6 separate regions of the Homo sapiens genome follow, and regions 2, 3, 4, 5 and 6 are each reported to be linked to region 1. The links are microRNA targets in miRTarBase. Many come from high-throughput screens and were not tested one by one. Region 1 holds a microRNA gene; each other region holds the end of a gene's coding sequence.

Evidence for each region. The annotated mature microRNA hsa-miR-125a-3p reads ACAGGUGAGGUUCUUGGGAGCC and lies in region 1 at 2,712-2,733, opposite strand. An mRNA with a match to its seed (bases 2 to 7 or 8) in the 3' UTR can be bound and repressed. Matches are read on the target gene's strand: a 7mer-m8 pairs with bases 2 to 8, a 7mer-A1 pairs with bases 2 to 7 and ends in A, and an 8mer does both.
Region 2: the mRNA of TPM2 is a reported target of hsa-miR-125a-3p. The part of its 3' UTR that is shown has no 7-base or 8-base seed match.
Region 3: the mRNA of ZFP69B is a reported target of hsa-miR-125a-3p. The part of its 3' UTR that is shown has no 7-base or 8-base seed match.
Region 4: the mRNA of HSPA4L is a reported target of hsa-miR-125a-3p. Seed matches in the 3' UTR shown: 8mer at 3,302-3,309 and 7mer-A1 at 4,851-4,857.
Region 5: miRTarBase lists TTLL12 as a target of hsa-miR-125a-3p. Seed matches in the 3' UTR shown: 7mer-m8 at 4,353-4,359 and 7mer-A1 at 3,353-3,359.
Region 6: the mRNA of PFKFB2 is a reported target of hsa-miR-125a-3p. Seed matches in the 3' UTR shown: 7mer-m8 at 1,291-1,297.

The regions. Positions count from the first base shown.
Region 1 is chr19:51,690,967-51,696,038 of GRCh38, reverse strand. It overlaps MIR125A (microRNA 125a), which reads right to left and starts at 2,785; the gene lies at 2,700-2,785. SPACA6 (sperm acrosome associated 6) reads right to left here and starts at 2,709. Exons shown (of 9, transcript NM_001316972.2): 1 at 2,299-2,709; 2 at 1,484-1,561. The coding sequence starts at 2,512. SPACA6-AS1 (SPACA6 antisense RNA 1) reads left to right here and starts at 2,583. Exons shown (of 2, transcript NR_108100.1): 1 at 2,583-3,405. MIR99B (microRNA 99b) reads right to left here and starts at 3,427; the gene lies at 3,358-3,427. It also overlaps MIRLET7E. RefSeq lists an enhancer at 4,434-5,072.
Region 2 is chr9:35,678,773-35,683,844 of GRCh38, forward strand. TPM2 (tropomyosin 2) reads right to left here. Exons shown (of 9, transcript NM_003289.4): 9 at 4,160-4,469. The coding sequence ends at 4,387. It overlaps CA9 (carbonic anhydrase 9), which reads left to right. Exons shown (of 11, transcript NM_001216.3): 7 at 413-570; 8 at 1,082-1,226; 9 at 1,341-1,367; 10 at 1,981-2,062; 11 at 2,193-2,387. The coding sequence ends at 2,253. Among named protein-coding and RNA genes, the nearest start is that of CA9, 7.4 kb to the left of the region's middle.
Region 3 is chr1:40,463,014-40,468,085 of GRCh38, forward strand. ZFP69B (ZFP69 zinc finger protein B) reads left to right here. Exons shown (of 5, transcript NM_023070.3): 5 at 1-702. The coding sequence ends at 576. Among named protein-coding and RNA genes, the nearest start is that of ZFP69, 12 kb to the right of the region's middle.
Region 4 is chr4:127,832,179-127,837,250 of GRCh38, forward strand. It overlaps HSPA4L (heat shock protein family A (Hsp70) member 4 like), which reads left to right. Exons shown (of 19, transcript NM_014278.4): 19 at 505-5,072. The coding sequence ends at 696. Among named protein-coding and RNA genes, the nearest start is that of PLK4, 46 kb to the right of the region's middle.
Region 5 is chr22:43,163,468-43,168,539 of GRCh38, forward strand. TTLL12 (tubulin tyrosine ligase like 12) reads right to left here. Exons shown (of 14, transcript NM_015140.4): 14 at 3,155-4,692. The coding sequence ends at 4,541. Among named protein-coding and RNA genes, the nearest start is that of TSPO, 14 kb to the left of the region's middle. RefSeq lists enhancers at 1-82, 83-585, 4,741-5,072.
Region 6 is chr1:207,071,472-207,076,543 of GRCh38, reverse strand. PFKFB2 (6-phosphofructo-2-kinase/fructose-2,6-biphosphatase 2) reads right to left here. Exons shown (of 15, transcript NM_006212.2): 14 at 4,971-5,035; 15 at 1-4,340. The coding sequence ends at 4,173. Among named protein-coding and RNA genes, the nearest start is that of C4BPB, 15 kb to the left of the region's middle.

The DNA of each region.
Region 1 (5,072 bases):
AACGTCCCTGGGACCCCTCAAAGTCACTGCCTTCTAACCCAGCTTATCATCTGCCCCCGGCTCTTTCTCTCAGGCTCCTTATTTCGGTGATGACCCACCGCCCAACAGGCACAGAGCAGGACCTGTCTCAGATGCTGTTCTCTATGCTTCCCAAAACAGCCCAGCAGACCTAACTCTCTGGCCCTGGCCCTTCTCCACCTTCACGGCCCCAGCCCCCACTCGGGCCTCCGCTCTGGCCTGGACCCTCACCCAGCCTCTTCTCTCTCCCCTCCAAGTTTGTCCCCCATGCGGCCCCACAGAAGGCTTCCATTCCCAGATCCAAAGGTTCCTCATCTTTTCAAAAGCTTCTGTAACAAGGCAGCCTATGTGGGGAGAAAGGGCATTTCTTGGAATCCTGCACACCCCCACATGGAGAGGTTTAGGGCCTCAGGTCTCCCTTTAGGGTGGAGATGGGGAGAGCCACAGCTGAGGCCTTCTCCAGGCTGGCCCTGGATGCCCCCTGGGTGGATGGGAACCTTCCCTCTTCCGGGATTGTTGACAGGACGCTTGGAGGGCAAAGCAGGAAGCAAAAGGAGCGACTGTGGGTGTGGGAATAAGCCCTGAGCTCCTGGACCTAAGAGGAAGCCAGTTTATTCTATAGCGCAGGGCTCTGTAACTCCTGCAACTCCGAGCCTCCACAGTTCCAGGGTCTGGCACCTCGTGGGGATCATGGCCATGGTGATCAGGCATGATTACCGCCCATGCTGCCCATCGGCATTGCGTGGCCCCCAGCCCTGAGGTCTCTTCGCACAGCCACACACCTCAAGGCTGTCACATGTGCCTGTCTCACCAGGACAGTCACACCTTGTCTCTTTTCACTGCTGTCACCTGAGTGATCCACTCTGCTGTTCCTGTTTTCCCGCCCTCTAATTGCCTCACACCTCAAAAATGTGGAATCACTTTATAAGAAATCTGTGTGTGTGTGTGAGTGTGAGTGTATGTCTCTGAGCGTGTCTGTGTGCGAGTGTGTGTGTGTTCTATCCTAGAGGAAGATGCCTTCCCTAAGATCAGGCTCATCAGGCAGCCCCAACCCCTGCACTGAGCTCCATGGCCATCCTAGGAGGCAAGAAGATTGTCCCACTTTACAGATGGGTAAGTTGAGGCCAGGAGAGGGGCAGTGACACACCCAGAACTTCATAGCCAGTAAGAGTGTGAGCCATGCAGCCATGGCAGAACCTATGCCTACCCGACCCCATCTGGACTTCCAGCTCTAGGCAATTTCTGCAGCGTCCCTTCCCCCTCACCACCTTCAGCCCCTGGCTCTTAGAGCTGCCTTCAGCCTTCGTTTGGACAAGTAGCTGAGCTCAATGTCTTCCCAGCTTTCCCCTCCCGGATCACTGCCCAACTCTGGGGGCCTCCTTCCTCTGCCCTGGGCCCTCCCACATACCCATTTCTTAGGGGCTCCAAGTCCACATCTCCCATCTCCCCATCCCCACACACTCACCCTGGGCAGCAGCCAGCTCCTGCAGGGCATGGGTCATCTGGGTGAAGGTGTCATGCAGGTGGCTTCTCTCATCATAGTCTGGCGGTGAGGGAGGGAGCAGGGGCTGGGGGAGGCAGCTCCCCGCAACACCATGTCCCTAATGCGAACATTCTGTTTCTGAGTCTCTGCCCTCCCAAGTCTGTATCCTCCCCTCTCTGACTCTTTGCCCCACAGTCGCTATGCTTCCTGAGTCCCTCCCAAGTCTCTATCCTCCCTGAGTCTCTGCCCCCGACCAGTCGCTATCCTGCTTCCCCTAGTCTCTGCCTCATCTCTGTCCTCCTCTCTCTGGGTTTCCATCCTCTTTGAGTCTCCATCTTCCACCCTCTGAGTCTCCATCCTCCCCTCTCTGGGTCTCTATTCCCTCTCCAGTCTCCAACCTCTCCTGACTCTCCATCCTCCCCTTTCTATGAGTCTCCATCCTCCTGACTCTCCATCCTCCCGAGTGTCCATCCTCCCCTCTCTGACTCTCCATACTCCTGAGTCTCCATCTTTCCGAGTCTCCATCTTCCTCTCTCTCTGAGTCTCCATCCTCCCCCTCTCTGAGTCTCCATCTTCCCCTCTCTGACTCTCCATCCTCCCCTCTCTGAGTCTTTGCCCTGCTGTCTTCCCCTGTCTGTGTCTCTCTGTCCCTAAGTCTCTGTTGTTCTCATGGTCTTTGAGCCTTTCTCCTCTGACTGTTTCTCTCTGTCTGTCCCTCAGCCTGACCCTCTGGGCCTCTCCTGCCCTCCCTCTGCACCTTCCCCAGGACACTGATGAAGTGTGGATGGTCTCCTCACTGATTTCGGTGTCAGAGAGGCCCTGGAAGGCGGCCGTGAAGGCCTCCTCACACTCTTCAAGCTTGGGGCTCCGCATCCCAACAAACATCTGGCAGATGCGGAGGCGCTCAGAGTAGGTTGTGAAGCAGAGGAGACAGGCCCAGGCGGGCACCCTGAAGACAGCCAGGGCCAGCAGGGCAGACGGGACGGCACTGGCCAGAGCCAGCAGGGCCATCGTGTGGGTCTCAAGGCCAGGGGAGAAGCTAGTAACCTTTATGAAGTCACCACAGGGCGGGGGAAGGGCCAGTGGTCTGGGGTCAGAGGTCAGGTTTCAGTTGGTGGTCAAATGTCATGCTCTGGAGGAAGGGTATGAGGAGTCAGGGGTCAGAAGTCAGGCCAGCAATTCCCCAGGTGTGTGGTTGGGCCAGACGCCAGGCTCCCAAGAACCTCACCTGTGACCCTGGATGTCCTCACAGGTTAAAGGGTCTCAGGGACCTAGAGACTGGCAACATGGTGTGCGGTGGCCCGGTAGACCCTGGGGTGGGGGTCAGAGATGGAGATAGGCACAGAGACATTCTGAGAGCCAGAGACAGAAAGACCAAAAACGACAGAAATAGAGACACAGAGAGATATCGGGAGGGGCAGAGACCTAGAAAGCCAGAATAAGAGGGAGTCAGAGGATCCACTGTGAAAGAGACACAGAAGCCACAGAGACACAGCAGAGATGGAGACAGACAGGGAAGGAAAACAGATTTCAGGGGAAGGAGGGGATGCAGGGACAAGGACAGAAAAGAGCCCGGCTCTTCCTCCCAGGGTCCCTGGGGCAGCCCAGTGGGGCTAAGGGTCCCTGAGTGGGGCTGGGGGTCCCCGCCGGGCCCCGTCCCGTGCAGGGCGCAGCCTGGGGAAAGCTAGGAGGCCGTATAGTGATCTCCTTGGGTGTCCTCCTCAACTATACAACCTCCTACCTCAGCCCGGGGGGCGCGGCAGGTGGACAGACCCGACAGACAGACAGACAGGGACCAGGAGGACCAGGGATGAGGGGGAGGGCCGGGGAGGCCCCAGCCGCGATGGTGAGCCCCCGACACGGACCCACAGACACGAGCTTGTGTGCGGCGAAGGCCCCGCAAGGTCGGTTCTACGGGTGGGTGCCAGGACCCAGGAGTCCGGGCCCCCGGCCCCTCCTCCCCAAGGAACCCAGGAGTCCAGGCCCTCAGCCCCTTCCTCATCAGGGACCCTGGAGTCAAGGCTCTCATCCCCCTCCTCCCTAAAGAACCCAGAAGTCTAGGCCCTTCCTCACCACAGACCCAGGAATCCAGGCCTCTGGCCCTTTTCTCCCCAAATGTTCCTGGAATCCAAGGACTCAGCCCCTTCCTCCCTCAGACTCATGAGTCCAGATCCAAAGCCTCCTTCTCCCCAGAGACCCAGGAGTCCCTGCCCCCAGCCCCTCCTCCCTCCGGCCAGGCAGGCCTCCTGGGGAAGGCATGGCCTGATAGAAAACCTGGCTTCCTGGGTGCCGGCTGGGAGGGAACCTCATTTGTCTCGTAATTTGGCCCTTTGGGCACACCTGCTTCCTACCTACCCTCCTGTCAGTCTGCAGAGACTCCAGGCCCAGGGCTAAGGAGGCCAGGGGCTAGCCAACCATCAGAGCCTCCCTAGGTGCTTTCTTTCCTCTCTCCTCCCTTCTTTGGGTCATTTACAACTATGACAGCCACAATCTCCCAGCGCTGACCCCATACCAGGCCCTGAGCACCAGTCCTCTCCCTGACACCTCCCACTCCAGAGAGCGAGGTGCCCTCAGCATCCCCATTTGGCAGGTGAGGGGGCTGAGCCTCAGAGAGGGGAAGAGGCTCCCAAAGTCTGCCCAGCCCCATCTCTGTCCTCCCTCTTGAATCCAGGAGGTGTCCCCAGCCTTCTCCAGCTTCTGGACCCCGGGACCCAGCACCCACCCTCCCCACCCCTGGGCTCTGAGCCCCTCCAGCTGGGGTCTCTCCCGTGCCCAGCCCCTCCTCCTGGACTGTCTGGTTCTCGCTGCCCCTGCTCCAGGCGCACCTTCCGGTTCCTTTCTCGCAGTCCAGGTCTCTCTGGCCCTGCCTTTTTCTCTCTCCCTCTTTCTTTCCACCTTCCCTGGTTCCCAGCCTCCTCCTGCATCAGGACATCCCTCCCTGGCTCTGCGCTGGCTTCTCTCTCTGCCCATCGCCTCTCTCCTCTCCCCGCTTCTGTTTTCTTCCTTCTCTCCCCCTCTTTCTCCTGCTTTTCCTCTACCTTCTGTCTTTCATCCTCCCCTTCTCCCCCTTCCCCCTCTTTGTCTCTCTCATTCTCTCTCTGGCCCTCTCTCAGTCTCTCTCCTCTTTCTCACCCTTCTCCACCCCCTTTTTTCGGATGTCTTTCCTCACTTCCTCTCCCTCCGCCCCTTCCCTCTCTCCATCCCTCACCTCCGTCTCCTGCTCTCTCTCAGTCTCTGTCTCTCTCCCTCTCTCTCTCCTTCCCTCCCTCTTAGGTCTCTCTCTTTCCTCCCCTCCCCCTTCTCTCTTTGGGTCTCCCTCCCTTCTCTCTCTCTCTTTTCTCCTTCCCTCTCTCCCTCCCCCTCGCAGCTCGAGCCAGGTCTGGAGCTGGGGGTGGGGTGGGGGTGGTTTGAGAAGGGGCCCAGGGCTGGGGTAGCGACCTGAGGAGGGGGAGGAGAGGCGGGAAAGGGGCGGAGGAGGAAAGGGGGAGGCGGGGGCCGGAGACGGGTCTACGGCCAGCTCTCTTCCCCCTTCCCTCCTTCCCAACCTCCCAGACCCTCAGGCGGGGGCGAG
Region 2 (5,072 bases), not on the chromosome of region 1:
ACCTTGTGATCCACCAGCCTCGGCCTCCCAAAGTGCTGGGATTCATTTTTTCTTTTTAATTTGCTCTGGGCTTAAACTTGTGGCCCAGCACTTTATGATGGTACACAGAGTTAAGAGTGTAGACTCAGACGGTCTTTCTTCTTTCCTTCTCTTCCTTCCTCCCTTCCCTCCCACCTTCCCTTCTCTCCTTCCTTTCTTTCTTCCTCTCTTGCTTCCTCAGGCCTCTTCCAGTTGCTCCAAAGCCCTGTACTTTTTTTTGAGTTACGTCTTATGGGAAGGGCCTGCACTTAGCGAAGAAGTGGTCTCAGAGTTGAGTTACCTTGGCTTCTGGGAGGTGAAACTGTATCCCTATACCCTGAAGCTTTAAGGGGGTGCAATGTAGATGAGACCCCAACATAGATCCTCTTCACAGGCTCAGAGACTCAGGTCCCAGGACTGGACATATCTGCACTCCTGCCCTCTGACTTCAGCCGCTACTTCCAATATGAGGGGTCTCTGACTACACCGCCCTGTGCCCAGGGTGTCATCTGGACTGTGTTTAACCAGACAGTGATGCTGAGTGCTAAGCAGGTGGGCCTGGGGTGTGTGTGGACACAGTGGGTGCGGGGGAAAGAGGATGTAAGATGAGATGAGAAACAGGAGAAGAAAGAAATCAAGGCTGGGCTCTGTGGCTTACGCCTATAATCCCACCACGTTGGGAGGCTGAGGTGGGAGAATGGTTTGAGCCCAGGAGTTCAAGACAAGGCGGGGCAACATAGTGTGACCCCATCTCTACCAAAAAAACCCCAACAAAACCAAAAATAGCCGGGCATGGTGGTATGCGCCTAGTCCCAGCTACTCAAGGAGGCTGAGGTGGGAAGATCGCTTGATTCCAGGAGTTTGAGACTGCAGTGAGCTATGATCCCACCACTGCCTACCATCTTTAGGATACATTTATTTATTTATAAAAGAAATCAAGAGGCTGGATGGGGAATACAGGAGCTGGAGGGTGGAGCCCTGAGGTGCTGGTTGTGAGCTGGCCTGGGACCCTTGTTTCCTGTCATGCCATGAACCCACCCACACTGTCCACTGACCTCCCTAGCTCCACACCCTCTCTGACACCCTGTGGGGACCTGGTGACTCTCGGCTACAGCTGAACTTCCGAGCGACGCAGCCTTTGAATGGGCGAGTGATTGAGGCCTCCTTCCCTGCTGGAGTGGACAGCAGTCCTCGGGCTGCTGAGCCAGGTACAGCTTTGTCTGGTTTCCCCCCAGCCAGTAGTCCCTTATCCTCCCATGTGTGTGCCAGTGTCTGTCATTGGTGGTCACAGCCCGCCTCTCACATCTCCTTTTTCTCTCCAGTCCAGCTGAATTCCTGCCTGGCTGCTGGTGAGTCTGCCCCTCCTCTTGGTCCTGATGCCAGGAGACTCCTCAGCACCATTCAGCCCCAGGGCTGCTCAGGACCGCCTCTGCTCCCTCTCCTTTTCTGCAGAACAGACCCCAACCCCAATATTAGAGAGGCAGATCATGGTGGGGATTCCCCCATTGTCCCCAGAGGCTAATTGATTAGAATGAAGCTTGAGAAATCTCCCAGCATCCCTCTCGCAAAACAATCCCCCCCCTTTTTTTAAAGATAGGGTCTCACTCTGTTGCCCAGGCTGGGGTGTTGTGGCACGATCATAGCTCACTGCAGCCTCGAACTCCTAGGCTCAGGCAATCCTTTCACCTTAGCTTCTCAAAGCACTGGGACTGTAGGCATGAGCCACTGTGCCTGGCCCCAAACGGCCCTTTTACTTGGCTTTTAGGAAGCAAAAACGGTGCTTATCTTACCCCTTCTCGTGTATCCACCCTCATCCCTTGGCTGGCCTCTTCTGGAGACTGAGGCACTAGGGGCTGCCTGAGAACTCGGGGCAGGGGTGGTGGAGTGCACTGAGGCAGGTGTTGAGGAACTCTGCAGACCCCTCTTCCTTCCCAAAGCAGCCCTCTCTGCTCTCCATCGCAGGTGACATCCTAGCCCTGGTTTTTGGCCTCCTTTTTGCTGTCACCAGCGTCGCGTTCCTTGTGCAGATGAGAAGGCAGCACAGGTATTACACTGACCCTTTCTTCAGGCACAAGCTTCCCCCACCCTTGTGGAGTCACTTCATGCAAAGCGCATGCAAATGAGCTGCTCCTGGGCCAGTTTTCTGATTAGCCTTTCCTGTTGTGTACACACAGAAGGGGAACCAAAGGGGGTGTGAGCTACCGCCCAGCAGAGGTAGCCGAGACTGGAGCCTAGAGGCTGGATCTTGGAGAATGTGAGAAGCCAGCCAGAGGCATCTGAGGGGGAGCCGGTAACTGTCCTGTCCTGCTCATTATGCCACTTCCTTTTAACTGCCAAGAAATTTTTTAAAATAAATATTTATAATAAAATATGTGTTAGTCACCTTTGTTCCCCAAATCAGAAGGATGGTATTTGAATTTCCTATTACTGTTATTAGCACGAATTTAGTGGTAATGCATTTATTCTATTACAGTTCGGAGGTCAGCAGTCAGATGTCAGTAGGGCTTGTTCCTCCTTCCACACATCACTCCAATCTCTTGCTCCCATTGTCACAACTCCTACCTCCACATTTGACCTCCTTGTCTCCTCAAGAACCCTTGGGATTACACTGGGCCTAACTAGATAACCAAGGATAATCATCCCATCTCAAAATCTTAATCACCAAGTTTCTTCCCATGTAAGATAAGAACAATGCACAGGATTAGAACATGGACATCTTTGGAGAAGGGGAATTATTCTGCCTACCACAGATGCTATCAGGAAGAGGACAGAAATGACTGATACTGTTGGGATGGCTGTGTGTGTGTGTGTGTTTGTGTGTGTGTGCAGTGTATGTGTTGAGGGGTAGGGCAGACAGCAGCCCTAGGCTTAACATCACACTCAGGCTTTTGGGTTTTCACCCTGCTCAAGGAAAATGTGTCACTTCTTGCAGTTTTTGCTTCAGGACGTGCTGTCTGGCCCAGCTGGCTGCTGGAACAGGGCGGTGCTATGGATGGCAGCTCCTCTGCCTGTAGGGCACAAGGCCCACGATGTCCCCCAGTCCTGTCAGACTCCCTGCTTCACAGAGCCTGTTCACAGCCCCTCCTCAATGAGCCCAGGCCCTCCATCCCAGTTTCCCCTGAAAAGGAAGTCCCAATGCAGAGCAAGGACCCAGGCCCTGCTCATTCAGGGGTCCCTCAAACTCCATTGCCAACACCAAAGAAAGGATTAAAGGGCCTTGAGAGGCTAGTAACATCAGTTTTATTGGGTTGGGGTGGCAACCATAGCCTGGCTGGGGGTGGGGCTGGCCCTCACAGGTTGTTGAGTTCCAGCAGGGTCTGGTCCAAGGTCTGGTGAATCTCGACGTTCTCCTCCTTGGCACTGGCCAAGGTCTCTGTGAGGGGAAGCAGCAGGTGAGGGAGAAGGGAGACACAAGGGGGAGACGTGGGGAGGCAGGGCCAGGGGAAGGTGACATATAGACATGGAGTGGGTCAAGGAAGACACATGCATTCACGGACCTCAGGGCCCCTTGGCAGGGACAAACAGATGGACTGACTAGGATGAGGGGAACAGGACGGACGTGGATGCCTCACTCAAGGCCTTGGGGTCATAGAGGTGGGGTGGGGAGGGCTGAGTCATAAACTACTTTATCCTCTTCTTTAGAAGGTTTAAGGAAGTTGGAGACAGAAGGTAAGACAAAGACTGCGCCAGGAAAGGAAGGGCCAGACAGACAGACTTGAGGTAGAAAACAGACCTGCTGCTGCAGTGAAAGCCCCATGTTGCTGATATCCAACATTTTTCCAAGCTCCATTCCAGACCTTTTGCAACCTTCTTGCCCCTGTCCTGCACCTCACCACCCTACTTCCTTTCCAGTCACTCTGTTTGATCCTGGAACCCCAGCTAAGTGCTCTGAGGTCAGGGATTGGCACCAGAGGCGGTCATGGTTTGATGGGGCCACACGTGCCCACATGCAGTGGTGAATCAGAGAGCGACAGCCAGGGAGTGCCTGTGCAGAGGGGTTTCAGCGTGGGCCATGGTGTTTTGTGGGTGGGCTCAGTGCAGGGGCTGGGGGTGTCAGTAAGTGCCAGGGTGTCAGGAGTGAACCAGTGCTCCGTGGTGGCGATAGAGGTGCTCTCTGGAGGGCAGGAAAACAGCATGGAGACCAAGTTCAGAATTTATTAAGCAGCAAAGGAGGGTGGAAGGGGATAGGTAAAGGATGAAGCCAGTGCCAGAGTGGGTGGTGGGCATGATGGGGGCTCTCCCTAGGCTGCTCCCAGCCTGGCTGTGCAATGTTGGCAATTTCTGCTCCTCCTGCCTGCTCCCCTCCCCATAGAGAGAATGGAAAGGAGAGGAGAGAAGAGAGCTGAGGTGGCCACGCTGGCGTGGGGCTCAGAGGGAGGTGATGTCATTGAGTGCGTTGTCCAGTTCCTCGCTAATGGCCTTGTACTTCATCTTCTGGGCATAGACTTCATCTGGGGGGGGTCCAGGGAGGGGACCAGGTGGGAGTGTGGGAAAGGGAGTGGAGGGAAAGAGGAAAGGAAGGAGAGAGAGCAATGGAAAGAAAAACAGAATCAGAGGTACACAAAGACAGAGTGAGAGAGGGAGGCCAGGGAACAGGCTGGACAGCTGTCAGGAACTCCTTCTCCCCATCTCTACCCCATCTCTTTTCTGTCCTTCTCTGTACCCCAAATTGGCTCTACCCATGGCAGCTCCTGCCTCTCCAGGGAGCTGTGTGTACAATGCTCTCGACAAGCAGGAGTGCTTGCTTAGAGGGGAGAGGGAGGGTGCTGGAGCCAGAAAGGGCAAACCTCCTAAAGCTGGAGGTAAAATTGGAGCTTGCCTGAGAAGGCTGGAAGCGAGAGAAGTGGGAAAGTGAAAGGGTTATCACAGAATAAAAAGGAAAGGCAACTTTAGCCACATCATCATTAACAATAGAAATAGCCACAGACTCACAAATATCTGGATGTTTGCTTTTGTCAAATCTAGCTTAAAATAGTGTTTTCTATTAGTGCTGTCATGCAGACCTAGATGTTCAGTCCAACAGCTCTCTAGTTAATAAGCCAGTCTCTGCACTA
Region 3 (5,072 bases), not on the chromosome of region 1:
TTCAGACATCCTTCATCGCTTACTCAACATGTTAGAATTCATACCGGGGAAAAGCCCTATGAATGTAGGGTATGTGAGAAAGCCTTCAGCCAGAGCATTGGACTGATCCAGCATTTGAGAACTCATGTTAGAGAGAAACCTTTTACATGCAAAGACTGTGGAAAAGCGTTTTTCCAGATTAGACACCTTAGGCAACATGAGATTATTCATACTGGTGTGAAACCCTATATTTGTAATGTATGTAGTAAAACCTTCAGCCATAGTACATACCTAACTCAACACCAGAGAACTCATACTGGAGAAAGACCATATAAATGTAAGGAATGTGGGAAAGCCTTTAGCCAGAGAATACATCTTTCTATCCATCAGAGAGTCCATACTGGAGTAAAACCTTATGAATGCAGTCATTGTGGGAAAGCCTTTAGGCATGATTCATCCTTTGCTAAACATCAGAGAATTCATACTGGAGAAAAACCTTATGATTGTAATGAGTGTGGAAAAGCCTTCAGCTGTAGTTCATCCCTTATTAGACACTGCAAAACACATTTAAGAAATACCTTCAGCAATGTTGTGTGAAATATACTAAACATCAAAGAATCTATGTTGGAGCACAAGATTCTAAATCAGTGGTTCCCTGATCCCTCAAAAATCCATTTGTTTTTGGATTTCCAAAAACGAACATTAAAAAAAAATGGTTTGGCACAATGTTCCCAACTCTTAATTTTGCCATATTAAAAACACAACACCTATTATCAGCATTGTTTCAGAAAAGAAAGGACATTTTAATATTTTTAAATGTAGGAACAGTTCCCCCCTCCATTTTTTTTTTTTTTTGTTTTTTGAGATGGAGTCGCTCTGTCACCTGAGCTGGAGTGCAGTGGCGTGATCTCAGCTCACAGCAACCTCCACCTCCCAGGCTCAAGCAATTCTCCTGCCTTAGCCTCCTGAGTAACTGGGATTACAGGTGCCTGCCACCACACCCAGCTAATTTTTGTATTTTTAGTAGAGACAGGGTTTCACCATGGTGGCCAGGCTGGTCTCGAACCATTCAGGTGATCCGCCCATCTCGGCCTCCCAAAGTGCTGGGATTACAGGTGTGAGCCACCGTGCCTGCCCCTCCCCCACCCCCGACCCAGACCCTTTTTTAAAAAACAGTTTCACTCTTGCCCAGGCTGGAGTGCAGTGATGTCATAGTTCACTGCAGCCTCAAACTCCTGGGCTCAAGCAGTCTTCCTGCCTCAGCTTCCCAAGTAGCTGGGCCTACAGATGTGCACCACCATGTCTGGCTAATTTATTATTATTATTATTATTATTATTATTATTATCATTATTATTATTGTAGAGACAGTCTCACTATGTTGCTGGACTGGTCTCAAACTCCTGGCTCCAAGCAGTTCTCCCACCTCAGTCTCCCAGTATGCTGCGATTACAGACATGAGCCACCGTGTCTGGCCAGGAACAGCCTGTTATATTACGTCAGCTTTATGACAGACTCCCACATTTATCTTTACTTTTCCCAGTTCACTATGTGCCAGTGAAATTTCATGGCGTGTTAGTGATCTGTGGATTAACTTTTGAGAAACACTCTTTTAAGTATCCCTTTAATAAATCAGAATAAAATATAGTACAGCCTTTTACTCTAGCCCTTTATATGGCTAGAAGAGGTAGAAATTAAAATGTTGCTTCTCATTTCTAGAAGAAAAAATGTTAAAGGGAGTTTTCTAGCATTGATAGATAACTTACTGTACACGAGATGCTTATTTATATTTTATGGTTTTATATAGAGCAAGAATTGGCAAACTTTCTGTAAAGGGCCAGATAGTAAATACGTTAGGTGTTGTGGGCCATGTGGTCCCTGTCACACCTATTCAACTTCCCCATTTTAGTACAAAACAGCCAGAGACAATATATAAACTACAGTATCTGAACCTTGGCACTACCAATATTTTGGACCGGATAATACTTTGCTATAGGAAGCTGCCCAGTGCATCCTGGGATGTTTAGGGGAATCCTTGGCTTCTACCCACAAGATGCCAGCATTCAATGCTGATAGCTGCCCCTCCCCCAGTTGTGACAGTCAAAAATGTCTCCAGACATGGCCAGGTGTACCTAGAGGCCAAAATTGTCCCTGGTTGAGACCCACTGATGAATGTGTGCAATAGTGGTTCCCATAAACTGCATTTAAAAAACAGCTGTTAGGTTTCGTTTGGCTCAAGGGCTGTCATTTTTCACTCCTCCCCCCATAGAGTATGTAAAATGATTAGAAATGACAACAGACTATCATTTAGTATCAGATTAGTGTGTGTATATGCCATAAATTATTTCCTTAGCAATTCCTTTAGTATTTTTGTTGCAATAATTCTTTAAACGCTACATTTGTAATGCTGTCTTGGAGCCTAGGAATTATTTTTGGAGATATTTATGCAGACTTCCCTCTATAATGATCGGTTTTTTATTATGGTTAATCCATAAATATTTTGAGATGTATCTCTAAAAAACGAGCACTCTTTGAAAACATAACCACAATGCCATTATTATACCTACAAAAATTAACCACAATTCCTTAAAACATAATGATGCCTTTTTGAAGAGAGATATATTGAGACTTCATTCTGGGGAGAAACCTTTCAGATAACTTTATTTACCTTTTCCTTTGCCAAGCATACAACATTAGATTTGAAATATGCTTTGTATCAAGTGGAAGTGTCTCTTAAGATAGCCCCTAGAACAACACATCAAGAGGCCCACCAAAGAGGACCAGAGAAAGGTGACTGAAGGAGCCATACTCAGGCAGGGAAATACGGAGAGAAAGCAGAGGAATTGGCTCCTAATGCTTCACTGTACTTAATGAAATAGATACTCCATCCTTACAGACATAATTGGAAGTAAGTCAAGTTCAACTTCTTTGTTTTATATGGAGATAGAACAGTTTCAATCACGTGAGTATTATAAGTGTGAATTATCTAAAGTAAAGCTATAAATCCAGAATATATACCAGTATCTCTAGAATTTTTCATATTACTACATTTACTTAAAAAAAAAGCTGGCCTCTAACTCTTAAGTCCTGTATGACTGATGGGCAGAAAAAGAGTGAGGTATACACTGTTTCTTAAAATTGTTCTACCATGTTTCTATGGTCTTAGATTTCCCAAGAATTTGAATTTCTCCAATTGCTTATTTCCCTGAAAGACATGACTATGACTTTTCTCTGTAGTTCCTGCCTCAGTGATCTCATACAGTCTTTGGCTTAAAATACCGTCTCTGTTTAACAGCTGCCAGATTCACATCTCCAGCCCAGACCTCTCCCGAACTCCAGCCTTGTTCTAACCTTTGGGCCGTTTCACTAGCTGTTGCAGATGCCCTATACCCTTACCTTCTCATCTTTGCTCAATTGTTGCCTTCTTACTGAAGCCTATCCTGTCCATACTATTTAATACTGCAGCTGTCTACCTTCCAGATCGAGAAATCCCATACCCCTTTCACCTGCTCTATGTTTTTCATATCACCTATCACCCTAGATACTTCACATATTTGTGTTTATTGTTTACTGTTGTTTCCCCTGGCTATAATGTAAGCTCCATGTGGGCAGGGGCCTTTGTTTTTTTCACTGATATATCACAAGTGCCTAAAACAGTGCCTGACACGCAGAAGGGACTCAGTAAATATGTATTGAATGGTTTTGATTTGAACTGAATTGAACTATGTATCCATGATGCAAGTAAAGAAATGTAATCCATATACTTTCCTACCTACATTTTATATGTGAGGAAATATTTTTTGTTTCCTTTTTCTTTTCTGTGCAAGTGGACCAATATTTGAGAATCGTATACCTTTGAGAATCATAGCTGATATACTTTAAGATAAAAGGGTATTTCTGTGTTAATTTGGTTTGGTTGTTTTTGTTTGTTTGTTGAGACAAAGTCTCACTATGTTGCTCAGGCTGGAGTGCAGCGTCATGATCATGGCTCACTGCGGCCTCAACTTTCTGGGCTCAAGCGATCCTCCCACCTCAACCCCCTGAGTAGCTGAGACTACAGGCACATACCACCACACCTGGCTAATTTTTGTATTTTTTGTAGGACGGGGTTTTGCCATGTTTCCCAGGCTGGTCTCAAACTCCTGAGCTCAGGCAATCACCTGCCTCAGCCTCCAAAAGTGCTGGAATTACAAGCATGAGCCACTGTGCCCAGCCTAATTTGTTTAAAATGCATTTAAATGTGGCTGATTAACAACATGAGTTTATCTTTATTTCATGAACCTGAGTGCATAAGCAAACTGGAGGGTATAAAAGACAATAGAGGAGAATATAGAAGCAGACATGAGATGTCAAGTTTTTGGTGGTGAGAAAATAGAAGAGTGGTGACTGACTTAGCAGAGCCTGCAGAAAAGTATACTGGCACAAGGATGTTCCTGGGAAGACAGAGGCCTTGGAGACAGTGGGCATTATGGAAGAAAGAGGGCTGAAAATGGGGATTCATTGAAATTCTAATGTCAGATCCTTAGACCCCCTCACCTACCCATACAGCTGGCTGTTACGCACACATTCCTCCCTCATGCCTTTCTTCATCCCATTACCCTTTCCTCATCCCAAAGGAGACTAGAGGTTTATTCTCTGGTGAAGGACCGGTCTCCCAATGTGCTGGGATTACAGACATGAGCCACCATGTCCGGCCAGGAGCAGCCCTGTATATTATATCAGCTTTATGACAAATTCCCAAATTTGTCCTTACTTTTCTCACTTCACTATGTGCCAGTAAAAATTTCATGTCATGTTAGTGATTTGTGGATTGACTTTGGTGTCCTTGATTCCAGAGTTGTTCTAGAATCAGGGACACCAGACAGTAGAGACTGGGGTAAAAATATGGCTGAAATGGGGACTAATGTAAGGCTGCATATTGAACTGTGGGGCCCTCAGCACTCTTTTCTAATGAAAACCAAGTTTTCATCCCTTCAACCATCTTCCGTCCAACCCCAGCAGGAGATTGGAGGAATCCTCTGGGGAAACTAGTTGGCAGGCTGGGCGTGGTGGCTCATGCCTGTAATCCTAGCACTTTGGGAGGCCAAAGCTGGTA
Region 4 (5,072 bases), not on the chromosome of region 1:
CCAATTTACTTTCACGGCACTTTTTCCTTCAGGAGAGGCTACTCAGCTATTTTCAAACAAAAAAAAATGTCGTTTGTGTATGTATTTGTATGATTCCATTTATTAGAATTGTTTTCATATAAATGTTGAAAATTTTCAGTTTATGAAATAGGTGTTATTTGATGTAATTCTCATAGCAAAGCATTACACGTAATTTAAAGGAAGAATTAAAAATTATTCCTGCCAAAGTAAACTGTATTTGATTATAAAGAAACAAGTTTTAGAAAGGTTAAGTACAAAAAATAATTGTTTAAGATTCAATAATTTTTGACTGCCACAGACATATACTAACAAACAAGGTAAATCTCTCATGAGGCATTTGAAGAAAACAGTTGGCTATCTAGCTGAGCAAATTCAGAAAGGGGGAATTATGTGAAAATTTAGAAAGTTAATGTGGAATTTAGAAAGTTAATGGTAACTTGTTCTGTAATCGTTTTAATATAATCAATTTCTTCATGTCTTTAGGAACTGGATAATTTCTGTAACCCCATCATTTACAAGCCCAAACCAAAAGCAGAAGTTCCTGAAGACAAACCAAAAGCTAATAGTGAACACAATGGCCCAATGGATGGACAGAGTGGAACTGAAACTAAATCAGATTCAACAAAAGACAGCTCACAGCATACTAAATCCTCTGGAGAGATGGAAGTGGACTAAGTCTTAATTTTACCTTCACATTAATTCAAACCGTGCAAGTAACCACGGGGTCCATCTTTTACATCTGGTACACACAACAGACGCTCAGTTGTTCTTAACCACTTTTGTCATTTGTTTTTTGGAGTAGTTTTGAAAAGTGTTTTATATTGAGTGCACTTCTGTTCATTTCCATTGCTGCTTATATGCAGTGTTAGCCGAATTAGATTTACAAGACAATCTAAGCTTTCCGGATAATTTTATATATCAAACATACAGGATGGATACATAGTTGGCAACAGTCTACCTTATTTAAAGCTTCTACTGGGATAAACCTCAATTCCTTTATTCAGGAAAGGATACTTTATTGCATTATTGTTGCAGAAGCATAGATTTAATTGCATCTTTATTTTGAAAAACAAATGAAAATTGATGGGGTTTAAAGCTACAGAGGCACTGACCTTTTTCTAGTTATTGTATTGCTACAATTTAAATATTAAAACAAATAAGAGCTTTCTCAACAAATTAGTCCATCTCATTGATGTACCACAGAAATCCAAAGCTTTGCTGTCATCACATAAATGAATTAAATCACATGTGAAAGGGAACACACCCAATTTTATGTTAAGGTGAAACCAGCAGTTTGCTTCTTTTATTAGTAATGTGGATTGATGTTTTCTCAGAGTAACTCGTTGTCTTTTCGCTTGAAATTTTTGATCTTGTCCTGAAGACTAGCTGCTGCTAAAACAATGCTAGCCTAAAGATACAGGAGTCTCTGACAAAATGACTTTCATGTTAAGGGGAAATGCTGTTTATCTACTCAGACATGCATCTGTGATGTTCATAGCCTTGTTTCAGTTATAATAGTTGTCTTGTTTTTTTCTTAATTGATTTTGTTAATAATACCTTAACACAGGGTAGGAAGAAGTGGCACAGTGTATTGCATTATATACATTTATCATTGATTTACCTAATGTTACCTTGTAGATTAAACACTATTAAGTGGTAATACTTGAAAAGGAGCACTTATACCATAAGTCTTAGGAAATAATGTTTGTAATAAACTTAACTATGTTACATATCAACAGGCAAAAATATAGAATGTTACATAGTGTTGTGTGATTAAATTATAGTTCCTGCTGTTAACATTACCTTTTGAAACCTTGGCTCCAGTTTTGGTGCTTCTTATACAAATTAAATGCGAAAAGGGACTGTAAACTTAAGATGTATTTTAAGGACTTTATCTGTGCTTCATCACCCAACTTGTTCACATTGTTAATTTCTGTCCAGAGACCTGAAACTGCTTAAGTATGGGAACAGACTGAAATGGTGTTTCAACCTGCAAGAGACAGAAGCATAGACAAGTATATGAGCCCTTATGTCCTTAATGCCAATCAACTAGATTGACCTAGGTTAAAATTTCAAAAGGCTCATTTTCTCCCAAAGCTAAATCTTTATATTAGGAACAATTAAATATTGACTTAAGTTGTAAAAATTGAGAGTACAATATCTTTAGGGATAGTCATTATTTCTCACAACTAGTTCTCTACGAGAGATTTTGTTTCTACAATGTAGTCAGCACTTAATGGAGAGTATGGAGTAGTGCATTTTGCAGGGATTTTTATTCCGTCTTTTGAGGGGAAGAATCTCTTTTTTGCATTAAAAAATCATATAAACTTAATATATTTTTAAACTCTCCTAGTCTTTAAACTTTCTCTTAATTCTCTTAAAATGAAATAGGTATATCCAATAGGTGATGAAATACATTTTTTACAAACATAGATGCTTTTTATTTGTATGTTGAATGTACAGATTCATTTCAAGAAAAGCATGAAGATAATGAAAGCAAATATGTAACAATACAAGTAGGGACTTTAGAGCTTCTATTTGGGTTAAAACATCCACTCACTTGGTTAGGAGCTATGCCTCAGAAACTTCCTGGGAGTAAATATGGGAACAACTTTTCTATTAATACATCTAAATTTTCTAGTATATCCTGACATTTTCCATTCCTGCTCTGAAGTCACTTTTAGTTTTGTGTTTTAGTCAGATAGTACCACTAATTTTTGTAATTATATAACACTTCATTTAATAACTTATATACATCCAAATATATATACTTTTTCTACCCAATTATTCAACTTAAAAGATTTCAAAAACGATTTAGCCTTATAATGTATTTATTTATTTAATTCATTAATGAAAGAGAGTGCTCTCTTTAATGCAGCTTTGGGTAGACAGTCTAATTCAGTCCAATTTTAATCTGCATTAAAATATGCAATGCTAGACAAAGATTTTCAAAATAAAAAGCTATTATTTCAGAAATTATTTTAAAAGATGCATAGTAAAACAGTGTTTTCCTATGGTAAGCAAATAAGAATGAAGTTTGTAGGGAATATTTGGAATGATTAATATAAATTAGTATACTTTGGCTCTGTGGAAAAGTGTAAATTGTGGTTTTAGAAACCAACTCTTGATAGTTGTACTGTGATTATAAAAAACAATTGTTAAATAATATAATGGAAGTTTGTGATAATTCCTTAGCAGTAATGTAAAATTATTAAGTTTTGGCCAGGCGCTGTGGCTCACGCCTGTAATCCTAGCACTTTGGGAGGCCAAGGCAGGCAGATCACCTGAGGTCAGGAGTTCAAGACCAGCCTGGCCAACATGGTGAAACCCTGTCTCTACTAAAAATACAAAAAAGTAGCCGGGCGTGGTGGCATGTCCCTGTAATCTCAGCTACCCGGGAGGCTCAGGCAGGAGAATCGCTGGAACCCAGGAGGCAGAGGCTGCCGTTAGCTGAGATCGTGCTCCTGCACTCCAGCCTGGGCAACAGAACAAGACTCCGTCTCAAAAAAAAAACAAAAATTCTTCCAAAAAACTAGAAAGAGCACAGCAAAGAATTTGGCTATTGAAATAACAGATAAACTTGATTTTGAAAAGGATAACAAGGCTGGGCACAGTGACTCACACCTGTAATCCTAGCACTTTGAGAGGCTAAGAAGGGAGGATCACTTGAACCCAGGAGTTCAAGACCAGCCTGAGAAACATAGTGAGACCCTGTCTCTAAAAAAATAAAAACTTAGCAAGGCATGGTGGTGCACACCTGTAGTCCTAGCTACTCAGGAGGCTGAGGTGGAGGATCACTTAAGCCTGAGAGGTCAAGGTTGCAATGAGCCATAATCATACCACTGCACTCCAGCCTGGGCAACAGAGTGAGGCCCTGTCTCAAACACATAAAAGGCAGTGGCCCACGCCTGTAATCCCAGCACTTTGGGAGGCCAAGGCGGGCAGATCACGAGGTCAGGAGATCAAGACCATCCTGGCTAACACGGTGAAACCCCGTCTCTACTAAAAATACAAAAAATTAGCTGGGCATGGTGGCGGGCGCCGGTAGTCCCAGCTACTCAGGAGGCTGAGGCAGGAGAATGGTGTGAACCCAGGAGGCGGAGGTTGCAGTGAGCCGAGATCGCGCCACTGCACTCCAGCCTGGGCAACAGAGCAAGACTCCATCTCAAAAACAAAACAAAACAAAAACATAAAAGGAAAACAAGACATTTACTAAGAAGAGCTAAAGGAAAGAATTAAAGGTTTCTTATGCTTTTTTGGGGGGGGGTGTCAATTTTTAGTATATTAAGAGCTAAAAGAAGTAAAGGTTTCTTAGACTTTTTTTGGGAGGGAGGCGTCAATTTTTAGTATATTTGTGATTAATTCCATGATAGAAGTCTTTAAAGAGAATTTTGGGGCTCAATAATTTAACATAATGTCAGTGTTAAAGCACTTAATCCAAATTAGCCCATCTTTAACTGTTTTGAAAAATCTATATTTATTAAAGGTAGTAGACATTTGAATATAGTAATCAAATTAACTGATTTTGTTTTCACCCTAAATACATACAACCATTCCTCCACTTTCATAAATTTGACAAATAATAAGCCTCTCCCATTAGGATTTTCTGTTTTATAGTAAATAGTTGGTATTTGGTAGTCCACAATTAAAGTCATTGCATTAATTTTACAAATTATAGATTTAGAAATGATTCTTAAGTTATTGGTAAAATATAACTTTCTCAGTTTTTAAAAGTTTACAAAATTTTTTTTTTTGTTTTGAGACAGAGTATGGCTTTGTTACCCAGGCTGGATTGCAATGGGGTGATCTAGGCTCACTGCAGCCTCCACCACCTGAGTTCAAGCGATTTTTCTGCCTCAACCTCTCCTGAGTAGCTGGGACTACAGGTGCATGACACCACACCCAGCTAATTTTTGTATTTTTATAGAGATGGAGTTTTGCCATGTTGGCCAGCCTGGTCTTGAACTCTTGAACTCCTGACCTCAGGTAATCCACCCACCTCAGACTCCCAAAGTGCTGGGATTACAGGCGTGAGCCACCATACCCGGCCA
Region 5 (5,072 bases), not on the chromosome of region 1:
TGGGGCCGTGGGCTTCAGCAGAGGGAGGGGGTCCTGTCCGCTTCCCATGGCTTCCGGGATGCTCAGCCCGGGCCCTTTAATGGCCGGGCCCACAACCACTGTTCGACGCCTGGTCCTGCCCAGTGCGTGGCCCTCAGCTGCTTTTACCCAGGACAGAGTTGGGGGTGCTGACTGCCCTGTCCCCCGGGGGCCCAGGCTTATGGCAGCCTCACTGCACCAGGGATAGCCCCGCAAACACCCAGTTGGCTCGAGGGGGAGTCAGAGGCAGGAAAGGTTAGGTCCCGACTCCAGCAGACAGGGCCTCCTTGCTGGCCCAGAGCGGCCAGGATTGGAGGTGTCACAGCCACTCACTCCCTCACCCCGGCTTCGAACTGGGTGACCCATGGCCTCTCCAGGCAGCTGTTTGGAGTAAATGAGCCGAGTCCCATACGCAGCACTCCTCCGTCTTGCTCTCGGTCACCACACCCATGCAGCACTCAGCAACACAGCCCGCGGCTCCCTCCCCTCGGCCAGGCCTGACCTGCCGGGCTTTTTGTTTTTTGTTTTTGGCAGCTAAGTTCATTCAAATTGGCAAAATGTTCATAGACAGCTCGTCATCACTCAACAGCCCGCGGCTGCTGCTTCCTCTTTTCTCCCCCGGCTCCTGTGTCCTCTCCCGACCTGTACGCTCAGACACAACCTGACGTTCACAAAAGCTTGGACACAGTGGCTCACACCTGTAATCCCAGCACTTTGGGAGGCTGAGGCGGGAGGATTGCTTGAGGCCAGGTGTTTGAGACCAGCCTGGGCAACATAGGGAGACTCTTGTCTATACCATCCACTCTGGTGCACGCACAACACACACACACACACACACACACACACACACACACACGAAAGAACGAACAGCTCAGGGAAATGGGTAGACAGTCGACTGCATTCTTCTGACAGAAGGGATGGCTCCCGCCCAGGGGCTGCGCTACTCCACCCTGACCCTCAGCCTCCCGCTCCCTTGACTCTGGCAGAGTTTGATGCCCAACAGATCACGCTCTGCAGGATCCAAAAACTCTGCGGCCACGGGCACTCAGCTGAGCCCTCAGCCCTCATGGCTTTCCCGATGCTCACCGGTGCAGAGGAGCCAGCTGGGGAGCCTCTGTGTATCCTTTTTATTAACTTATTTCTGAAGTTCTCCAAGACGCCCAGAGTTGAATTCCTCCAGAGCTCTGTGCAGACAGTCCAAGCAGCGGATGGCAGAGAGGTCCTTGCTAGCAAGAAACTTACAGGCCAGGCTGTCTCCTGCTCCAGCATGCCGGTGAGCATGCACCGTCCCCGCAGGGCACAGGGGTATCCTTTGAAGTGTCAAGGGACACCTGAGTCCGTGCCAGACACTTAGGGATTGGAGAAAGTGCAACCCAGACTTCTGCCATCTCCGCAACTCGTGGGGTTGTTCATCTGTAACAAATGTCCCACATAGCTCCTGCTGGCCACAAAACACGCACTGCCACAAAACGCCTTGGAAAAATGGGCGAGAGGAGAACGCATTTAGCATTTCGTCTGCCGGCTTCCTTTTAACAGCCTGGCGACGTTTCCCCAGGAAATGCTCGTAACAGACAGCATTCTCTCCTTTTCTAAGCTGCTGTCATCCACTGGGAACTTAAGGTTTTGATGCTTTCTGAGTGGGTTTATTTATTATTTTTTTTTGAGACAGTCTTGCTCTATCGCCCAGGCTGGAGTGCAGTGACGCCATCTTGGCTCACTGCAACCTCTGCCTCCCAGGTTCAAGTGATTCTCCTGCCTCAGCTTCCAGAGTAGCTGGGATTACAGGTGTGTACCACCATGCCTGGCTAATTTTTGTATTTTTAGTAGGATGGGATTTCAACACATTGGGCAGCCTGGTCTCCAACTCCTGACCTCAAGTGATCCGCTCGCCTCAGCCTCCCACAGTGCTGGGATTACAGGCGTGAGCCACTGTGCCTGGTCAATTCCGGCTTTGGATGGCTTCTTAACACAGTGATGAGGGTGCAAATGAGTACCAGGAAGAAGTATTTAGTGGGATAAACATCTCCCGGCAACTGCCTCAGCACCTGGAGCCGGCTGGTCTTCCGGCTCATGAAGTCCCTGGCTCTTGGCCTTCCTTGGGGGTGTCCATTTGCAGTGAGCAGAGGTGCAAGGACATGTGGGGACAGAGAATAGCCATCTACAATCATGGAAAGCCTGGACCATGTGGTCTTGATTCTGGGGGCTGTCCCAGCTGCTCCCTGGGCAGGACTATCTCCTGGGCACCAGGTTTTAAGTGAGCTGGGAACTAGTGAGAGCACCAGCTGTTAAGCTTCTGGACAGAGTCCGTGTGAGCATCAGTCCTGAGACCTGCCCTGGAAGGGAGGCTAAGGAGAGAAGCAGCACAGTCCACAGGCAGCCTGCCTCAGGGCCGCTCTGCCTTCCGCTTTTTTTTTTTTTTTTTTTTTGAGACGGAGTCTCACTCTGTCGTCAGGCTGGAGTGCAGTGGTGTGATCTTGGCTCACTGCAACCCCCGCCTCCTGGGTTCAAGCGTTTCTCCTGTCTCAGCCTCCTGAGTAGCTGGGACTACAGGCGCGCACCACCATACCCGGCTAATGTTTGTTTTTTTTTGTATTTTTAGTAGAGACAGGGTTTTATCATGCTGTCTGACTGTCTCGATCTCTTGACTTTGTGTGACCTGTTCTCTGTCCTGCCTCGGCCTCCCAAAATGCTGGGATTATAGGCGTGAGCCACCATGCCTGGCCTGCCTTCTGAGTCTTAACCTCCTTGGTCACCATGTGGCGCTGCTTCCACCCACTGACGGTGTCCATGCACCTGCTCAGCAGTGGCCCGAGGAGCCCTGCAGACGCCCCAGCAGCCAGGGTTTCTCACCGTCCCCACCCCAGGACAAGGAGGCAAGTGTGGGGAGGCTGCTATCTCCAGGGCCACTAGAGCTGTGGGGCCACTCGAGGACCGAGGCTCCCGGCCGGCTTGGAAACAGATCCAGCACATGGAAATCAGACTGTGGGGTGGAGGCCTGCGATATAAAGGCCATCTTATTTCTTCTCCCACTTTTTGTGGGTGACTTCTTGGTATCCGGGGCTTTTCAGTGACAGCCGGGGCGACAGGCCAGGCTGAGCCTGTGGCTCCAGGGTCCAAAGAGAAAGGAGGGCAGAAATAAGAGAAGATGGCCTTTATTGCAGCACGAACTGAGGGGGACTGCATGTCCACAGCTCTCCAGGAGCTGCCAAAGGCGACGGGCCCGCCCTGCCCCTGCAACAGGCCCTCCAGGGGCTAGAGCATGGCTCCCCTCAGGAAGGGTAACGCGTGCTTGTAAACAAGGGCCCAGACAACACAGAGAGGAGAGGCAGCATCATCAGGTGCAGCTTTGCTACAAGAAAGATAGTTCTTAATTTCAAAGAGGAGACACCGCTACACCTAGCCCTGCCCTCCCATGCACTGGAAGGCTCTGGAAGTAGCTCTCGCCTGCCTGGGCAGTTAGGTCCACCCACTGCCCGTGAGCTGGGCCCAGGCACACTGCAGCCACACAAAAACGCTGGCAGCTGACTCCTAATTTCAGAAACACAATTAGAAAAGAACTGGAATTTTACATTTTTCTCCCATACATTAAAAAATAAGAAAAAGCCAACATTTTGACTGTAGACCCTGGTAGGTGGCATCTGACTTTAACCTGAAGTTCTCATTGGAATCCTTTTCTGTCTGGCGCTCCACCGCCCACAATCAGCCCCAGCCCCAGGCGCCCCTTGCCGAAGGATCCTGGCCCATCTCACACAAGGGCGGGACCCCGTGGAGTGCCCGGCGAGCAGGGCAACCACTGGGAAGACAGATACTGATTTCCCTGTTGGGGTCTGTGACCCTCAGCAAACGAAAAGGAAACGGTAACAAGACGGTGGCCTCCTGCCAGGACCTCAGCAGGAGGTTTGCTGGTGAAGGTTCTGGGTGAGCTGGAATGGGTGATAAGGCGGGCTTGCTGGGTGGTGGCCTCAGGCTGTTCCTGGGCCCCTGTCGCATAGAGCCCTGTGGGTGCAGTGTGGGGCCCCACAGCCGTCCCGGGGTCGTCCTGATGCATAAGAGCAGAGACCCCGGAAGAGAAACCCGCCTGCCCCGTGTGATACAGGGCTCCCAAACGCTTCCCGGTGGAACCCTGCTCCCGAGGACACCTTGTCTCGCTCCACGGAACCCTTCCCCCAGCACCCCCTGGAAACACAGCAGCCAGGAACAAATTCTCCATGCCAGGAACAAAGCCCTTGGCTAAACTGGAGACTCATCAGTGCACAGATGGTGGTGAGGGGTGAGGGCAGGGCGTGGGGTGGTGCTCAGCCCTGGGGACACCATCACTGTCCTGCTCTGACCCACAGGTGAGAGGAGGATGCTGTGCTCCCGGAGTGTGGCGCCGGGAGGATGGCTCGGCAGGACAGAGGCCTGGGGCTGAGGCTATGCCCAGGGCCGGTGTGGGGAGGGACATGGGGGCCTTTGCAGAAGCAGCTCAGAGAACTGAGGTTGGAATCCTGCCCCAAGCACAGGTTTTGGGGACAGCGAGTGCCTAGACAAGGCAGGTAACGTGGCAGCCACCGGGCTGGTCCAGAAACAAGGTGCTGAAGACGTCGTTGAAGAAGGTGGGGTGGTACCTGCAGGCTCGCTCACAGTCGGGGTTGAAGTTCACCTCCAGGATCTGCGGCTGCATCACCCGCCTTCCTGATGGCAAAGAGCGCAGCAGAGTGTGAAGGCTCGTTGGCCTCCACTCTGCAGGGACAGTGGCCTGGGGATCCAGCAAAGGCTGGGAGGCCATGAACCTGGGCCCTGATTCCCAGGGGATGAGCAGGACAAGGCCGGGCCTAGAACTTGGGTCTCTTGACTTTGCTGGGGAGGCCTGGCCTGACATCTGCTTCTCTAGGAGAGGCCAGGGCTGCCTCCAGCCCTAGGGATGACAGCCTGGCCCTTTAAGCTTGGATGTTCAGTTTAGTAAAAAAAAAAAAAAGTAGATATGCAGCAGCAGTGTACTGTGTGGGGGTCTGGCACAGGGAAGGCCAGCCAGGGTGGTGTGGGTTGGGGTCAGGGTGCCTTTCACACGGGTC
Region 6 (5,072 bases), not on the chromosome of region 1:
CCTTCAGGGAAAGTCGATTCTACCCCACCAGTGCTGCAACCCGACTCAGTTGTTACATATTTTCAATAAGTCAAAATACATAGAAAAGCTGGGTAAATCTATCAAATTTCTTAACAATGAACACAACATGGCTTCTGGGCTTGGCAAAGACAATGGAATGTGCATAAGATTACATAACCCAGATACAATTCTTCTGATTACTGGATACTTTTTCCCGTGCCCATTGGCCACTCCAACCACCAATGAGTTTCTGTCAATTAAGATCTCCTGCTCATAAAAAAAAAAAAAAAAGAAAAAAAAAGTAACATAGATGAATTTATTTCCAAACAGCTATATCATATGTTTCTTCAAAATGCCAGTGTCTCTGAAGACCAAATGTGGGTTGCAAAGAGGATTACCCAGATCCTCATATGGAATACTCACCCATTCAGTCTAGGGGTACAAATATATTGTGTCCTTAACTCCAACTTCTTTGGAAACAAACAAACAATAACAACAACAACGAAACACCAGAGGCAAAGATATAGGGCAGATCCCTAGCACAATGCAAGTTTTTAGAAGCTTTTCTTATTCTACTTTAAAACTCAATGTAAAAATCATCCCTTTACCAAAACAAAACAACAATACAGATAAGAGCTAAATTACAATTTAGGGATTAGGAGATAAGAAGAGAAGCAGGTTCTCTAAATCTGCTTTAGAATTCTCTTTCAAATCTGTCATAGTCTTGAAGCAAGAATAAGAAAACAGAATAATTTCCCTTTCCCCACTTTAGACAAGTAAATTTATAAAAAACTTTTTTAGAGGTGAGGTCTCACTATATTGCCCAGGCTGGTCTCAAGTGATTCTCCTGCCTCAGCCTCCCAAGTATCTGGGACTACAGGTATAAGCCACAGCAACCAGCTTATTCCAGTAGATTAAATGCTAATGTCTTTACCTATTTCTCACAAAACAAAACTTACAGCCTCAGCAGAGAGTACTTTTAAGTCCATTTTTATTTTGTAGGACTTGTGATAGACACAGTCATAGTAATGTATACAGATTACCAACATGCATTCAAGTAAGACCAGGAGAGAAAAGATGAGAAGTAGAGCTGAAACTTCTCTAAAATTTGGAGTAAGAGCTCTTTTCCATTCTACATTCTCCTGGCTTCTTCCTGCTAGACTTCTCTGAAGGGATCTTGCTTTAGAAACTAAAGGATGCTGAAGCCCTTGCTTGCCAAATTCCAATTTCTCATGTCCTATCTGAGGATAAGACCACCTCAGCTCCTCTTCTGGAGAAAGCGAACTAGCACAGGTGAGAGTGGGGAAATAACAGCAGGCTGAGAGCCAGAATGAACATCCCAGTGACCTGTCTCTAATGCTGGGTTAATGACAGGTTAACACAATGCTAGCTTGTTAGAGAAGTCCCCTTTTGCTAAGAGTGGGTACAGTGTTAATCCAAAGTCTGTGGATCAAAGTGCTCCCTCTTCTCATTCATTAGGTCTGAATTACTCTTACCTCACAGCAGAAGAAAAGACTGAATGCCCATTTGGGCTACAGATGCCACCATCCAAGCAAATGTGGACAATGCAACCTTGTAAAAGTGCCAAACACGCCTCCCCAACCATATCTCATTCTCACACTGGTGGTGGTGGGGGCATCCCCATCCCCCAACCCCTGTAGTCTCATAGCCATAGGACAACAGAAAAGTCAGGAGAAGCGATGTGATGGTTGAACACTTCTAGACTCAGACTGTTGCTATATTGCAAATGTCCATTTGTTATAAATTACATGTCCTGTCTCTTAAAATAACCTTCCTCTGGACAAGGACCTTTTCTTCTACTTCTGTTTAGCTTTCCCCTATCCCTGCCCCTACCAGCCCAAAGCTCCACAAAGACACTAAGTACATGTTATGTAACCACTAAACAGGAATAGCAGGTTACTTAACATCTTGGACACAATTTTGAGAAGAATCTAGGTAAGCAGCCTTTAGAAGCTGCCTATGGTATCCTACTTGGGACATACGAGTAAAGGACCCGGGGTCAGGAGTCAGTTGCCAGTGATGACAACCTTTATCATCCTGGCAGGGTCTGCACCTCTCTCCAGGGTGCTTAAAATCCCCAGCTGCTCTCTAGAGACAATTATTTAATTCAGTGATTTGTTCCACATCACTCAGCAATGTAAAGGGTTAAAGATGGGACTAGAACCTAGAATAACCCTCTAAAACACAGCAGCCTGCCTTCCAGGGGGTTATATCATTTAACATTATGATCTGCTCAAACATCAAACCCAAAGAACTGTCCTTTCAGGACTATGAGGAATTCAGAATTCCTAGGCTGACACTTTTGTCTGAGAAACTACTATCCAGTATTTTTCCACCTAACTTCCTAAGGTGGAGTTCTTAACCCGAGCTATGAATCAGAATCATCCGGGAAGCTACTTAAATACATGCATGTCCAGACCCAGATCCCAGAGATTCTGAGTCAGTATTAAGCATAAGGTGGACACAGGCATGTTTATGATTCAACAATCCTAAAGGCAATTCTAAGGAATACTCCTGGATGAGAACCACAGCAAAAAGTCTTCCATTACCAAATGAAAACACCCTTGGAAAATAGCTAACTCCTTCTCACTGGTTACCTCTAAAAGACCAGCAGATAACTTTAAGGTGGGGAGTCACCTATCTCTTTTTAAAATCCCATGAGAACCCTAAACTTGCCTCTCAGAAAAACATACATATATTCGTACATTTTGCATGCAAAATTGGGAAAGAGAATAAGCCATCATGGTCATCAAGGGGCTAAGAATTTCTTCCCTAAACATTTTCTGTTTAACCCTACAAAGAAAATGAAATGACAGAAGTGAATAGAGAAATACAAACAGTTACGAGCTAGATCCCACAGGGTTCCAAGGACTTCTCTGGACATCAAGATGAGATAGTTTCTCTTTATGAACAAAAGAATACTCCAATGAGAGAGATTAAATTCATCATCAAGCTTTTCCACATTTGGGAAAAAAATGGTCATGTAAAAACTATTTTGTTTTGATGTTTCTTTCTTCTTAAGGACAGTGTGCTGAAATTATTCAAAAATAAGCAGTTTTAGTGAACTCTTCTCTGCCTCTTGCCTTGAGCAACTCAAACATCAGTGGTGACTCCTGAATCTAACTGCCCTTCTAAACAGCCCCAGAGGATACTGGCTTTGGCAGGAAAAGTTGCTGTGATTGGCAAAGAACCTGAGAGTCATGGGAGAAAAGACATGACTGCTCTCTAAGAGCCCTGCAAGAGCTAGAGCCCACCCTACTCTCCTAAACCCCACTCTGCAGACCTCAAAAGACCCAGGCCTGACTCTAAATTAAAAATAAAAACCAAGACATTTCCCACATGCTCAGAGCCAGATTCTCCCAGGGCATCGAAGACTTAGAACTGTTTCTCATGAAAGGAGGCAAGAACTCTCACCCTATGTCTACTTGCAAGCTCCAGAATATTCTGTGGATGTCCTGTAGTCTGGGCTGGCCCTTACAGGACCTGGCTGGAGAGGAAGGGAGAAAGGAAAGGAAAGACTCCTCCAGTCCAGATCCATTTAGACCCACTGCAGAAAGCATTAACTGGGCCAGACTTGTCTCTTGTCAATCACCCCTTCCTTCCTAGACAGACACCACAATGCCATGCATTACACTGGACAATCCAGAGGGGACATGAAAGTGGGGGAAGAAAGCAGTCAAGTAAGGAGTGTGAGGAAAACACACATTGAAGAGACAAAAGTGAAGGAAAAATAGACTTTTTGTCCCCCGACTGCTCACCCGCCCTCCATCCCCCAACACTTCACCAACATGAGGACATTAGTGAAGACACCAGGGAACAGAGAGAAGATCCAAGAGTGTGGGGCATGCTCAGCCCCAAGGGAGTGTATCTTTTTCCTCCTCCTCCAGATCATCCCATCTGAGAATCTGTCCTAAAAGACTCAATTTGCTAACTTGCCCCTGGGTGAAAAGATGTTTCAAACTGAAGAACAGCTTAAGTTGTCCTATAAACACATAACCTCATGTTCTGTGTTAAGATTAATGGTGAAGTGTCAGGGGTGGGCATAGAGGGAGGAAGTTAATGACTCCTTGGTGATTAGTGACAAGGGCAGGAGGCCAGGGCTGGAGGGAAACACACAGTTACACCACCGGAATGCTGACTTGGGTCTTCGGCTAGTCGGCCCCTTCTTGCATGTCCTGGGCACGGAGAGGGCTGAGGGGCTTGAGGGGCCGGCTCCCAACACTGTAATTTCTTGGACGCCTTATTGTATTCGAACTGGACAGAGGCGTAAAGCTGTTCCTTCTCATCCTTACAGGGGTTTGGTTCTTGGGGAAGTTGTTCTGATTGGAAATGGAGTGACACCACACAAATGAAAGCCAAGCCAAAAGCTCACTCATACAGGTTAATAATGCGCTTGTAACCACAACAGCTTCCCTCACTCCTGCTCCTCTGCACACAGGGTCCCTCACAGGGCATGGCCCATGGCCTGGCCTCCTAGCATCAGGGGGCTAAAAGGGAGAAGCTCCTTGAGCATAACATTCCAAAGCAGGAAAAAGACCCAAAGAAAGGAAGGGGCTTATTGAAGACCACACAGATTACCAGTGACAGACCTAGGAACAAACCTACACCTCTTGACCCCCACCTTATAGGCTCCTCTGGACTCTGCTTTCTAAAGGGACACTTGGGGTTGGAGGGGGGTAGTAATTTGCATTTCACTTCAGCCAAACACTTTCCATATTTAATTGGATTTCCAGGAGCCAACATTCAAGGTTAAGACTCATGAAAGGGGTACTAATTTAAAAAAAAAATAATTCCAACATCAGTTTCAGACGTAGCAAACTACATTTGGACGTAAGTTCTGAATCTGTTTCCCTTTTGTACATAAAAGAAACCCCAGTCTCTTGATGTCAAAGCTTCAGAGACTCAAGGTGGCAGGGAAACTGGTGTGTTCATCGTGGGAAAATACTTACAGTTGGCTTGTCACGGTGCGTGTTCACAGCCTCCACGTTAAGTTTAATTGTTTCCACTTTGCACCCTGAGAAAACAGAGGAAAGAGAGGACTTAAAGAAAAA